2 linked regions of the Homo sapiens genome follow. The protein of the gene in region 1 interacts with the protein of each later gene in a pairwise test. Each region holds a gene or a part of one and is shown on either strand. Other genes may lie near its edges.

Region 1 (7,039 bases):
TTGCTTGGTATAATTTGATACACTTTTTATTTGTTGTGATTTGTCTTGAATTCTGACTTGCCTGAATTACTAAGCAAGTCAGAATTATTGTAAGGCAAAATATTTTATAAGATAACCTGGGCTTTTACAGTGTTTTCTTTGGTTTAGAAGTGTTTATACTAAATAATGGAAGTCTCCTCTGTTGAGGTTTTATTCTTATACCATGTTTTGGCAAACATTTTAAAATGCTTTTGTGTGTGTATTTAAAACATTTATATTTGCATAAATCATTTACAGGTACACGAGTCGATGATGCTAAGGCACTGATAGCGGACAGTGGACTTAAAATACTTGCTTGTGATGACTTGGATGAAGCTGCTAGAATGGTAAATTGGCCATGTTCATCTAAGGAGGATTTATAAACACAGATTCTAAAATGAACCTAATTATTAATACAGCTAATAATTTGTGTTTCAGCTAAATATTATGAGTGTAATGAATGGTTAAAGAAAACGATTATTCATGACTCTTGCTGAAAGATGTTAAGGCAGACTTTATTCAGAGGGACTGTTGCAATAAGCATAGAGACTACTGCAGTGGAGTTTTGCAGTAGGGGAGAAAGATTGGGCCCAACTCCAAATACAGCAAGGAAAAGTGGGAATTTATAACCAAGGAAGAGGGTCGGGGCAGTGGATGAAAAATTACTAAAAGGATACATTATGGGTAAGGGAGGATCCTGGCTAAACTGACTTAAGCAAGATTCTTGGTAAAATTGGACTATGCAGGGACAAATACAGAAGTCCAAAAGTTAGGGCCAAGTTGAGAAGAGAGTTCAGAGTAGCCTTTGGGAGGCTGAGGCAGGAGGATTGCTTGAGTCCAGGAGTTTGAGACTAGCCTGGGCAACATAGGGAGACCCTATCTTCACACATGTGCGCACACACACATGCACGCACACACACATGCACGCATATGTATGTATGTGTGTGTATCTATCTATATATTCGATAAATATATATTGAAAAAACAAAAGAGAGTTTGGTCAAGGAGAGAATCTTTGTCAGAACGTCTTATATCTGTGATCATCTTAAACAACGGTCAGCTCCTGCCCAATCTTGTTTGTTGTTTTGTCTGTATTCTTACTTCCTCCCACAACTGTGATTATTTTCAAGCAAATCCCAGACATTATATCATTTCATACATTTCATCATGCATCTGTAAAAGATAAAGGTATTGATAATGGTATAAAAAAATTACTGTTACTTGTTTTAGGTGGGGTAATGGTATTATGGTTATGTTTTATAAAAATACAGTCTGTTGAAATTTCTGAGTCTCTTATATCTTTTGTTTAAGTTCTTTGTAAGGGTCAGAATAAGTCTCTGCATTGTAGTTGGTTAATATGTCAGTAAGTTTCTTAATCTGTTGGTTTCCCCTTTTAAAAAGAAAAGTATTTTCTGTGGTTTATTTGTTGAAAAATCCAGGTTGATGGTCTTGTTAAGTTTCTCATAGTCTGGATTTTAATGGTTGCATCTTTAGGCTGTCATTCATTTACTGTGTTCTCTGCCCTCTCTGTGTTCTCTGCCTTGTGTATTTCCTGTAAACTGGGAGTTCAGTCTGTAGGCTTGACCATATTCATATTTGATTTTGGGGAGCAGGGAACAAGAATATTTCATAGTAGGTGTTTAATTTCATCAAAACGTATACAATGTTAATCTTTTTGTGGTATTACTAGCCATTGACATCATAGCTTAGATCCAGTATTTTGTTTGTGTTGCAAAGCGTTGCTATTGTAATTCTGTCATTCTTCACTTATTATATGTAATGCTTCTAAAAAGTAATACTTCCACGTGTCAACCATTTGTTACCATGGAGTACATTTTGCATAGGAAAAGTAGGATAATTACCTGATTATTTGCCTTTATTGACCAATTTTCAAAATAATGTTTGTTCTATTATGTCCAATAAAGGTGACCTAGGGTTTTTTTTGTTTTTTGTTTTTTTTGTATTTTGTTTACTTTTTGTTTTCAGGTGTGTGTGTGTGTGTGTGTGTGTGTATTGTGCGTGTGTGCATACACATGCATACACATGTGTGTTCCACTGGCATACTGTTTTGAACTTATGACTTAAAACATTGATGTAGTTCAGTTCATGTAAGTTGTGATTGAAATTGTCCAACCTTTGGTCTTTGGGAACCTCTTCAGGTTAACTGTTGCATCCTTCTGAGAAGCCCTCTATCTGGTATGATAAAATGTTTCAGGCTCATCTTTACGTTTCTTGAGTCAGAACTTGAATGGGCCAAATGGTATTTAGAGAGCACAATTTGGCCTTATGAGTATTCATAGATACTGGGTTGATTATTGTTTCTGAGCTTTTTAAGTGGCAAGTCTGAGAAAACATGTATTTTTTAAAGAGGTAATACTTGAGTTCATACTGATATTTTCAATGCAAGTCCAGGAGTATAGATTTTTTTTTCTTATCTGACATCTGTTTGTACCTTCGTTCATGCCATACTATCATAATTATTCATTTGCTTTGTCCCTTAGTACAGATATGACAGTTTTATAATAAGAATACCAACAGTCTGATTACTGAAAGCAATTATATCTGCATTTCTTTCTGTCCTTTAGGGTATGTCCCACAACTTAGTGGATTTTAAAATTCATGTGAAATAATTCTCTGTGTGTTTTGTCTCAGCTTTGTATAGTTTCATTGTTTTTAAAGGGATTGCTTTTTTTAAAAAAAAAAAAACACAACCTTTTGTTTTTTATTTTGTATTTACATGATTCCAAAGTGGAAAGTATAGAACAAGGTATTATCAGGGAATCTAGCTTTTATATATTTCCCTCTTTACTTCTTCCCCAACAGGCAACCTTTTTACCTTTTTTTTTTGTTTGTTTTTTAAGAAAGTTTTGGTTTATCTTTCCACTTCTTAAAAACATAAGCTAATTGTATGTATATAACTATATGTATGTGTGCAGTAGTCCCCCCTTATCTGCAGGGAATGTGTTGCAAGACCCCTAGTGGGTGCCTGAATCACAGATAGTTCCAAACCTGTATATACTGTGCTTCTTCCTGTACATATATTCCTTTGATAAAGTTTATGTATTAGACATAGTAACAGATTAACAACAACTAATAATAAAGTAGAACAATTATAACAATATACCGTGATAAATGTGAATGTGGTCTCTCAAAATATCTTATTGTTCTATACTCACCTTTGTGGTGATAATGAGATGATAAAATGCTTACTTGGTGAGATGAACTGAGGTGAATGATGAAGGCATTGTGACATAGTGTTAGGCTACTACTGACCTAATGATGTAACAGAAGGAGAATCATCTGCTTTGGTTCATCCTGGATCATTGAGCCATGATGTTGATTGTTGGATGTCAAGAGTAGATAATGTTGATGACTAATGGAAGAGTAGTTTATACAGCGTGGATACGCTGGGCAAAGAGATGGTTCACATTCCACTTGGAGCAGGATGGTGCAAGATTTCATCACACTTCTCAGAACAACACACAGTTTAAAACTTAATGACTTTTTTATTTCTGGAATTTCTCATTTAAAATTTTTGGACCACAGTTGACTGCAGGTAACTGAAACTGTAGAAAGTGAAATTGGATAAGGGGGGGACTTTGTGTGTGTGTGTGTGTGTGTGTGTGTGTGTGTGTGTGTGTGTCTCCCTTTTCCCACTTTAGATTAATGGTAATCTATACTTTGTTTCTTTTACTTAACAATAATGTGTATCAGAGAACACTTCATAGTAGATACAGAGAGATGAGAATTTTTTGTCTTCCCTTCCATTATGTTTATAGACATTTCATTGAACACTCGAACACTCTTTGGGCTCTATAGCTTAATCAATAGTAGATTCTTGATTTTTTTTTTTTTTTTTTTTTTGAGACTGAGTCTTGCTCTGTCACCTAGGCTGGAGTACAGTGGCGTGATCTCAGCTCACTGTAACCTTTGCCTCCTGGGTTTAAGCAATTCTTGTGTCTCAGCCTTCTGAGTAGCTGAGACTACAGGTGTGTGCCACCACGCCCAGCTAATTTTTTTTTTTTTTTTTTTTTTTTAAGACAGAGTTTTGGTCTTGTTGCCCAGGCTGGAGTGCAGTGGTGTGATCTCGGCTCACTGCAACCTCCATCTCCCAGGTTCAAGCAATCCTCCTGCCTCAGCCTCCCAAGCAGCTGGGATTACAGGCATGTACCACCATGCCTGGCTAATTATGTATTTTTAGTAGAGATGCGGTTTCACCATGTTGGTCAGGCTGGTCTTGAACCCCTGACTTTGTGATCCACCTGCCTCGGCCTCCCAAAGTGCTGGGATTCAGGTGTGAGCCACTGCGCCCAGCCTTGTATTTTTAGTAGAGATAGGGTTTTGCCATGTTGACCAGGCTGGTCTCGAACTCCAGACCTCATATGATCCTCCCACCTCGGCCTTCCAAAGTGCTGGGATTACAAGCATGAGCCCCCAGGCTTGGCCAGACTCTTGAATTTACCGAGTTAATGTGATGTCATTTCACAAAAATAATAAAAGTCTTATGTCCTTCTTTGGGAAAGTACTTACTAGTAAACAAAATTTAACTCTAGCTTGGAGACAGAAGAATTTAAACTTAAACCTGAATTAAAAATAAAGAATTTGAGCAAGGGAATAGTAGGAGAAAGTATTTCAGAAAGCCTATTTTGACTTTGAGATGTGGGATATATTGAAGGGAAAAGGGGAGAGATAGTAGGAGTCCATCTAGTGCAATACTTAGATATGAGAAAAGGTGAAGGTAATAAATAGGTTATAACTTGTCTCTGAAAGTGCACTTTTTTGGAATGAAAACTTAAATTAAGAAAAGCTTGGAGGACATGAAAAGAAGGAGAAGAACCAGTAGGACCTTGATCAAATAGATCATGAGAGGTAAAAGTGAACAGTTGATTTAAATTATGACTACAGTGTTTTTATTGACTGGGAGATTATAGAAGTCATAACAATAATAATATTGAATGAGATGATGATGATATTAGCAGTTACTACTGTTTATTGAGTGTTTACTGTGCATGCAATGCTAAGCTGTTTTCTTCAAGGATTATCTCATTTAATATGAATTTGGTGATAAAATTTCCATTTTTATAGATGAAGAAACAGGCTAGATAAGTTAACTTATTCAAGGTTGTATGTCATAAGCATCAGAGGGGGGATTTGCAGCCAAAGATATCTAACTTCAAAGCCTTTTCTTAACTAATTTACTGAGGAAGAGAGAAGCTGAGTTTGTTTTTTTGGTCTTAGACATGTCTAAATTTGTATGATGTTTTGTATGGTAACTGGTGGATATTTTTAGACAGATTGTAGAGAGAATTGGAACTCAGGTTAGCAATTGTTAACTTACTGACAAAAAGTAAAATACTAACTAGTAGACCCAAATTTCTATCCCAACATTTTAAGTTAAGATTGTATACTTATTTCAAAACAAATTTTTACTTAGATGTGCTTTGAGTTGTGGAGTATCCAACAAAGACACTCACTGTTTCTGTCTTTAAGATAAAATTTAGAATAATATATATATATATACACACACACACACACACACACATACATACACACACATTTTATACACACATATATAATCTTATGTAATACATATGTGTAATCCTAGCAGGTGGTATAACATCTTAATCAGAAAGTATTTAATTGAAGTTTGGACTATGAGGAGTGTCAGACTTGATTATCCTTTGAGAATGTCATTTGCTTATAAGAACGTAATGTGATTTATAGCAATGTCAGAATAGTCCAGATGTTTTAAATGGAAAAAATTGAGTGTACATTAATTTTGCACTGACCTGTAGTTCTGAATTTACCTTTTTGTGAAAATTCTTCGTTCTTTTCTTTTAGGTTGTAAAGCTCTCTGAAATAGTGACCTTAGCGAAGCAAGCACATGTGGATGTGAAATTTCAGTTGCCAATATGATCTGAAAACCCAGTGGATGGCTGAAGGTGTTAAATGTGCTATAATCATTAAGAATACTGTGTTCTGTGTTATTGTTCTTTTTCTTTTTAGTGTGTGGAGATTGTAATTGCCATCTAGGCACACAAACATTTAAAAGGATTTGGACTGCATTTAATTGTACCATTCAGAATGGACTGTTTGTACGAAGCATGTATAATGCAGTTATCTTCTTTCTTTTGTCGCAGCCAGTCTTTTTTGCTTCTCCTACAAAACGTAACTTGCAATTTGCCAGTTTATTATTGTTGGATACAAAGTTCTTCATTGATAAGAGTCCTATAAATAAGATAAATACGAAGATAAAGCTTTATTCTTTAGTGTTAAAATACAGTATATCTAATAACTAGCCTCATTAGTAGAGCAGTATATTAAAACAATGTTTTATGTAAAAAGTGTTTATCTTCAGCACCAAATACATGATAAATGTATCAATCACTATTTATAAACAGAGCTTTCAAACACTCCTCAGAATATTCTTCTAAGTATTTTGATGAAGTAACTTTGTAATTATTTGAACATTGTTTTAATCATTAGGAAACACTGATTAACTGCAAGTCTTCATGATTCTGTCATATTAAGAAACACCTGTAGGTTTGCTTCAAATAAAGGCATATATACCAAGGACTTACAGACAAAATTAAGAATGTCAATTTAAGTTAATAAAAATCTCCCAATATGATTTGGGTTCATGGCTTTTGTTTGCTTGTTTTGAGGTAAACACAGTAGAAGTTGATTTGTTCGTTATTGCAGTATAGAGGTCTAAGCACCAATTCTTAGATCATATACTTGCCATGACAGTGATTTGTTTTTTTTTTTGAGTCAGGGTCTCACTCTGTCACCCAAGCTGGAGTGCAGTGGTATGATCATGCTCACTGCAACCTCTGCCTCCTGGGCTCAAGCAGTCCTCCCACCTGAGCCTCCTAAGTAGCAGGGACTACAGGCACACACCACAAAAAAACATATGTGTTTTTTTTTGTTTTTGATTTTTGTTTTTTTTTTGGTAGGGACAGGGTATCACTATGTTGCTTAGGCTGGTCTCTTACTCCTGAGCTCAAGCAATCCTCCTGGC
Region 2 (7,039 bases), on another chromosome or scaffold:
TTAACGGGGCGTAGCTGGGTACGGTGGCTCACGCCTGTAATCTCAGCACTTTGGGAGGCCAAGGAGGGCGGATCACAAGGTCAGGAGATCGAGACCATCCTGGCTAACACGGTGAAACCCCACCTCTACTAAAAATACAAAAAACTAACCAGGCGTGGCAGTGTGCGCCTGTAATCCCAGCTGCTGGGGAGGCTGAGGCAGGAGAATGGCGTGAACCTGGGAGGTGGAGCTTGCAGTGAGCTGAGATCGCGCCACTGCACTCCAGCCTGGGTGACAGAGCAAGACTCTGTCTCAAAAAGAAAAAAAATCAGTAGCATATCTATATACCAATAATGTTCAGGCTGAGGACCAAATCAATAACACAATCCCATTTACAACAGACACACACACACACACACACACACACACACACACACACACACAATACCTAGAAATACCTCTACCCAAGGATGTGAAAGATCTCTAAGAGAATTACAAAACACTGCTAAAAGAAATCATAGATAACATGAACAAATGGAAAAACATTCCATGCTCATGGATTGGAAGAATTAATATGGCTAAAATGGGCATACTGCTGAAATCAATCTACAGATTTAATACTACTCCTATCAAATTACCAATGTCATTTTCCACAGAATTGGAAAAAATTATTGGAAGTAACTGAATCACGTGGACTGGTTTTTCCAGTTCTGTTCTTGTGATAGTGAATAAGACTCACAAGAGCTGATGGTTTTATAAAGAGCAGTCCCCTGCACACGCTCTCTTGCCTGTCGCCATGTAAGATGTGCCTTTGCTCATCTTTCACCTCAGGCCATGATTGTGAGGCCTCCCCAGCCATGTGGAACTGTGAGTCCATTAAACCTCTTTTTCTTTATAAATTACCCAGTCTCAAGTATTTCTTCATAGCAGTATGAAAATGGAATAATACAACTCCCCATTCAACAGCTGATGCTTCGGATATTTGGCTAGCCATATGCAGAACAACGAAAACTAGACCCCTACTTTTCACCATATACACAAATTAACTCAAGGTAGATTAAAAGTTTAAAGGTAAGACCATGAACTATAAGAATTCTAGAAGAAAACCTAGAAAACACCCCTCTGGACATCAGCCATGGCAAAGAATTTATGATTAAGTCCTCAAAAGCAATGCAATAAAAACAAAAATTGTCAAGTGGCATCTAATTGAACTAAAGACCTTCTGCACAGCAGAAGAAACTCTCCACAGGCCGGGTGTGGGGGCTCACACTTATAATACCAGCACTTTGAGAGGACGAGGCAGGCAGATCACCTGAGGTTAGGAGTTCGAGACCAGCCTGACCAACAAGACAAAACCCCATCTCTACTAAAAATACAAAAATTAGCTGGGCATGGTGGCACGTGCCTGCAATCCCAGCAACTAGGGGGGCTGAGGAGGGAGAATCACTTGAACCCGGGAGGCGGAGGTTGCAGTGAGCTGAGATCATGCCACTGAATTCCAGCCTAGGTGACAGAGCGAGAGTACATCTCAAAAAAAAAAAAAAGTATCAACAGAGTAACAGACAACCTACAGAATGGGAGAAAATATTTACAAACTATGCATCTGACAAAGGTCTAATATTCAGGAGCCATATGCAACTTAAATGAACACACAGAAAACAACCCCATTAAAAATGGGCAAAAGACATGAACACACATGTCTCAAAAGAAGACATACAAGTGGCCAACAAACATATGAAAAAATGCTCATCATCATGAATCATCAGAGAAATGCAAATCAAAACTACAGTGGGATACCATCTCATACAGTGAGAATGGCGATTATTAAAAAGCCAGTAACAGTAAATGCTGGCGAGACTATGAAGAAAAAGGATCATTTATATACTTTTGGTGGGAATGTAAATTAGTTCAGCCAGTATGGAAAGGAGTTTGGAGATTTCTCAAAGAATTTTAAAACAACTACTATTTAACACAGCAAACCCACTACTGGGTATACATAGAAAAGAAAACAAATCTGCTGGGCGCGGTGGCTCACACCTGTAATCCCAGCACTTTGGGAGGCCGAGGTGGATGGATCACGAGGTCAGGAATTCAAGACCAGCCTGCCCAAGACGGTGAAACCCCGTCTCTACTAAAAATACAAAAAATTAGCCGGGTATGGTGGCACATGCCTGTAATCCCAGCTACTCTGGAGGCTGAGGCAGAGAACTGCTTAAACCTGGAGGGGCGGAGGTTGCAGTGAGCCGAGATTGTGCCACTGCACTCCAGCCTGGGTGACAGAGCGAGACTCCCTCTCAAAAAAAAAAAGGGAAAACAAATCATTCTACCAAAAGACACCACTATCCATAATAGCAGTGACATGGAATCAACCTAGGTTCCCATCAACAGTGGATTGGATGAAGACAATGTGGCATATATACACCATAGGTTACCACACAGCCATAAAAAAGAATGAAATCATATTGTTTGCAGCCACATGGATGAAGCTGGAGGCCATCATCCTAAGTGAATTAATGTAGGAACGCAAAACCAAATACTGCGTGTTCTCATTTATAAGTAGTAGCTAAACATCAGGTACTTACGACCATAAAGATGGCAACAATAGACACTGGGGACTACCAGGGCGGGGAGGGAGCGAGAGGAGGAAGGGGTGAAAAACTAACTGTTGGATACTGTGCCCACAACCTGGATAAAATCATTCATACCTCAAATTTCAGCATCAAACAAACTTACATATGTACCCCCTGAATCAAAATAAATTTGAAAAAGGAAAAATAAAAAATGAAAAAAAGTTTCCTTGGCAGTGTATTATATGTAAAGTAATCCCTGTAATGTAAACAAAATGTACATACGCTTGTATGAATATACATGGCATATGCATAAAGATTTCTACAAAGAATCACAAGAAATTATCTGTTGTATTCACCTGAATGAAGAAGGGCTGGGGGCTGGAGGAAGTGTTAGGGGACTACCACTATGACTCAGCACCTTTGTTTTTTTTTTGTTTTTGTTTTTGTTTTGAGATGGAGTCTGACTCTGTAGCCCAGGCTGGAGTGCAGTGGCGTGATCTCGGCTCACTGCAGGCTCCGCCTCACGGGTTCACGCCATTCTCCTGCCTCAGCCTCCCGAGTAGCTGGGACTACAGGCACCCGCTACCACGCCCGGCTAATTTTTTGTATTTTTAGTAGAGGTGGGGTTTCACCATGTTGGCCAGGATGGTCTCCATCTCTTGACCTTGTGATCCACCCTCCTCGGCCTCCCAAAGTGCTGGGATTACAGGCATGAGCCACGGCGCCCGGCCGACTGAGCACCTTTCTATAGTGTGGCAGATGTGTGGCTCTGCATTTACCACTTTCAAAAAATGTGCAGCGCGGCCAGGTGCAGTGGCTTATGCCTGTAATCCCACCACTTTGGGAGGCCAAGGTGAGAGGATGACTTGAGGCCAGGAGTTTGAGACCAGCCTGGGCAACATAGCAAGATCAGATCTCTACAAATTACAAAACAAAGGTGCAATGCGATTCAGCAGCGTGGAGTAATTGTTGATATTTTTTGTTTATTTCCTTACCTTTTTATACTTCCCTTCATTAAAAAAAATGGGGTATAGTTATAGGAAAGGAAGAAAATGGGTGGAAAGTGAACCTTGTCTAGGTAAGTATTTGACAAGTGATCAAAGAGGAGCCAAAAGCAGAGAAAAATAGGAGAATCAGTTCCTAAACAGGCGTGGAGGAAGGAGACAGTGACTCACAACAATTCAGGGAATTCCTCACTTCACACAGCATCACAAAAGAAATGGCACCTACGTTCCACTGGTGTATGCTACAAACCAAATCATTCTTTAAAAGTCCACAAAAAATTAGGTAGGATCATCTTATTTTATCCTGAAGGAAAGAACTTAAAAAAAAACAAATGTGTGTCCAGATTTCACACCTACTCAATGTCATATCAAAACTAGTGAATCGATGTGAATAACTGGATGTGTGTGTTTCTGTAATACAAAAGCACTTCTACACACTGACTCAGAAATCCTACTTCTTCCCAGAAGCCTCCTTACATACTTGATCAGAAATCTGGACAAAGATTTACTGTGAAATATGTTCAATGTAGTAAGAATTTTGAAGAACATTTAAAACTTCCGCTGTTTCAAGCAAGGGCTCCCTGACTTCTGTTAGGAGCACACGATGGAGACTGTGCAGCCTTATTCAGTCCTCAGTGAACCCTGTGACACCCACTCTATGCCTGTGGAGATCCAGGCTCTGGGGACACAGCAAGGACAGGACAGGGAGTAAGAAGCAGATGTCCTGCAGACTGGCACGGTCACCACCTCAGTGCAGCTGCTCCGTCCCCTGCAGTCCCCTGTCTCCCAAAGGCTCCATGTCCCCTTGGGCCAGGAAAGAGGAGGCACTGCCATGTCCCACTGTCTACAAAGTCCTGTGCAGGCTGCACGCCAGGCAGGGCACAGTCCCTCCTCAACTCACCAGCAGACGCTGTGGCTCCTCTGGCAACTCTACAGTCACACCTGTTAGCTCTGCCAGCTCCTGACCTTGGATTTCCTGCTCAGAGACCTGGGTGGGCTGCAAGTATCTGTTACTCAGGGTCTCGTTGCGGGCATTGTCCTCCGCCCCAGGAACTCGTGAAGGACATGAACGCCGCCGGAAAAGGACCTTGGGAAGACAAAGAGCCCACTCAAGTCCACACCCCGGGCTCAGCTTCAGGGTCCCCAGTACACAGCTGGACCTGCCATCCCCAACCCCTTCCAATGAGGTCACCCCAGGCAGCTGAGGCTCAGCACATCCAGGACCCCATGCTGAGGTGGGTCAGGTGGTCACCCCATCCCCATGGGGCCAGCTGTGGAGTGATGGTGTCACCGAGGCTGCAGGAAGGACAGGGCTGCAGCACGGCCTGCTGGTCTGTGTGCTGCTCAAAATGGCCGTGTGTCCCCCACAGTCAGCCCAGATCCCCCAGGCCATGTCAGAGAGTCAGGGCAGCCATGAGGACAAGGGATTGTGCCCACCCAGGCTCGGCAGTGGATGGGAAGCAGTTCCTGAACCCACGAAGCCCCCAGTTTCTGGAGAAACCAACTCACTCTGTGCACACGTTCGGGACCTCCTCCACCACCTGGAAAAGAAGCAGTCTCCTGAGCAGGCGGGGAGGGGCCCATGCAGCACCTCCCTCCCAGAGGACAGTGGGGCGCAGGGCTGGCTGGGGGCTGGGACACTGGACAAGGAGCCCTGGGGCTGGGGACAGAATGGGGCCTTGCAATTAGGGGACACCCTGAGGAAGGGGGATGAGAAGGGGAACTAGAGTAAAAACCAACACGTGGAAAATCTCTGTGTTCTGCTCTGACCAAGGCTGAATAAATCCCACGACCACTTCTCATCCTGACCCTTGTCACCCAGTTGAGGAGCTGACTGCCCCCTGCCTGGCTGGGCCTGAAGATAGGAGGAACTGGCCCTGCCCTCCTGGAGTTGGCTCCGGGAGATGAGGGGTCCCCCAGCCCTGAGAGAGGGACTGATGAGACCAGGGTCCTTGGGGATACACAGGACGTGGGGATGGGGCGATCACAAGAAGGAAGACCAAGCCAGGCTGGAGACGCTTGGACCAGGGGCAGGGATGGGGATTACTGTCTGTGGGAACGGAGTGGGAGAGGGCAGGGCAGACAGTGCCCAGCGCTCCCACCCTCAGCCAGCACCTACCTGAGCAGATGCCTTTGAGGTAAGAAATGAATTTCTTCCGACATGAAAAGCCAACCACAACCACAGCTAAAATGATGACTAAAACCACTATGATGATAAGGTAGTGATAGGGAGAGGCAAGCATCCCCAGGATGGTGGTCACTGTCTCCTCCGCTGCTGGGGTTTTCCCAGTGGAACTGGCAGCTGATTCATTTTTGCACTTGATGTCACTCCGGGGCGTACAATTACTGACCTTGACCATCCCTCTGGGACACCTGGGTACACACAGAGAGGGAGACAGGGACTCTTGATGGAAAGCTGGCCAGGTGGGATGAAAGAGGAGCCACCCTCCCTGCCCAAAGTCCCTGAGAAGGCGTCAGGAGGACAGGCTCCTCGTGTCAGCAGTGGGTCCCCCTGTGCTCCCTTCTTGAGGCTGGGGAAGGGTCTGAGCATGCACACTTCAGCCCCTCGGCCTCCCTGCTCTGGGGTCAGAGCTGTAGATCCAGGAGCCTTCTGTGCTGGGCACACACTGAGCTTCCCTGGGCTGCAGGGGAGGCCTGCGTTAGGAGGAGCCGCACTCCAGGGGAAGATCACAAGCCCCTGTGGCCACAAGCTGAGCCCCTTCCTCCAGTTAACACACAGTACAAGTGAGTCCTCGCCCCACCCTGTCTGCCGCTGGTTCCTCCCAACCACAGCAAACACTGGAGGGCCAGAGAAGAGCAAGTTACTCTTTGCCCCTAAAACCCAAATAGGATAAAGAAGGACTTAGTGAGAAATCGGGGGCCAGGGGTGAGGCCGGCTGGGTGGGCTCAGGTCCTCATGGGAACTTAAGGGAGCTCCACCCATGGCCTTATTATGACTTTTGTGGGCTACGGACACTTTTGTCTTTATGGGTCCCTGCCCACATAAAAAATATTAAAAATTACATTTTTTAAACCAACTTAGAGTAAGGAAAAATACAAGCCAGGCTGGATTCAAGTGTTTTCTTCTGATTTCAAAAGGAAATTACATTTCCTAGGTTGCCTGAAAAGGTTCAAGGGACCTAGAAAGTCACCTCCTGTGCCCAGTGAACAATTCAGCCTGGACAAAGGGACTCCTGCTGGGGAGGGTATGGGAAGGGGCTGCTGCAGGGGGTAGGGGTGGGGACAGGCAGATGGACCAGGAGGGGCCAACGCAGGCTCAGGAAACCCCACAGGCTCAGGGAGGCCTCGGGCCTGGAGGATCCATGGGGTCAGCGGAGAGATAGAGGTACCAGGTGAATCAGGTCTTTTCAGGTTCCTGAAAGCTGTTGGGAGCCCCTGGCTGCTGTCTTACCCTGTTCTACACGTCCGGCACATCTCAGGGGAGTTTTTATCCTGGAAGCTTCCTTTTTCACACTGACACACGGT

What was found. Proteins that work in one complex are often made in the same cells at the same time.
Region 2: the proteins of SUCLA2 (region 1) and TNFRSF10D interact in binary tests that used the Homo sapiens proteins (3 or more experiments, as listed by UniProt).

The regions. Positions count from the first base shown.
Region 1 is NC_000013.11:47,942,266-47,949,304, reverse strand, and holds the end of SUCLA2 (succinate--CoA ligase [ADP-forming] subunit beta, mitochondrial precursor), read left to right. Parts: intron 1-276; coding exon 277-365; intron 366-5,859; coding exon 5,860-5,934; 3' UTR 5,935-6,649; downstream 6,650-7,039. UniProt on the Homo sapiens protein: ATP-specific succinyl-CoA synthetase functions in the citric acid cycle (TCA), coupling the hydrolysis of succinyl-CoA to the synthesis of ATP and thus represents the only step of substrate-level phosphorylation in the TCA.
Region 2 is NC_000008.11:23,139,996-23,147,034, forward strand, and holds part of TNFRSF10D (tumor necrosis factor receptor superfamily member 10D precursor), read right to left. Parts: coding exon 6,966-7,039; intron 5,927-6,965; coding exon 5,673-5,926; intron 5,095-5,672; coding exon 5,063-5,094; intron 4,641-5,062; coding exon 4,455-4,640; intron 1-4,454. UniProt on the Homo sapiens protein: Receptor for the cytotoxic ligand TRAIL. Contains a truncated death domain and hence is not capable of inducing apoptosis but protects against TRAIL-mediated apoptosis. Reports are contradictory with regards to its ability to induce the NF-kappa-B pathway.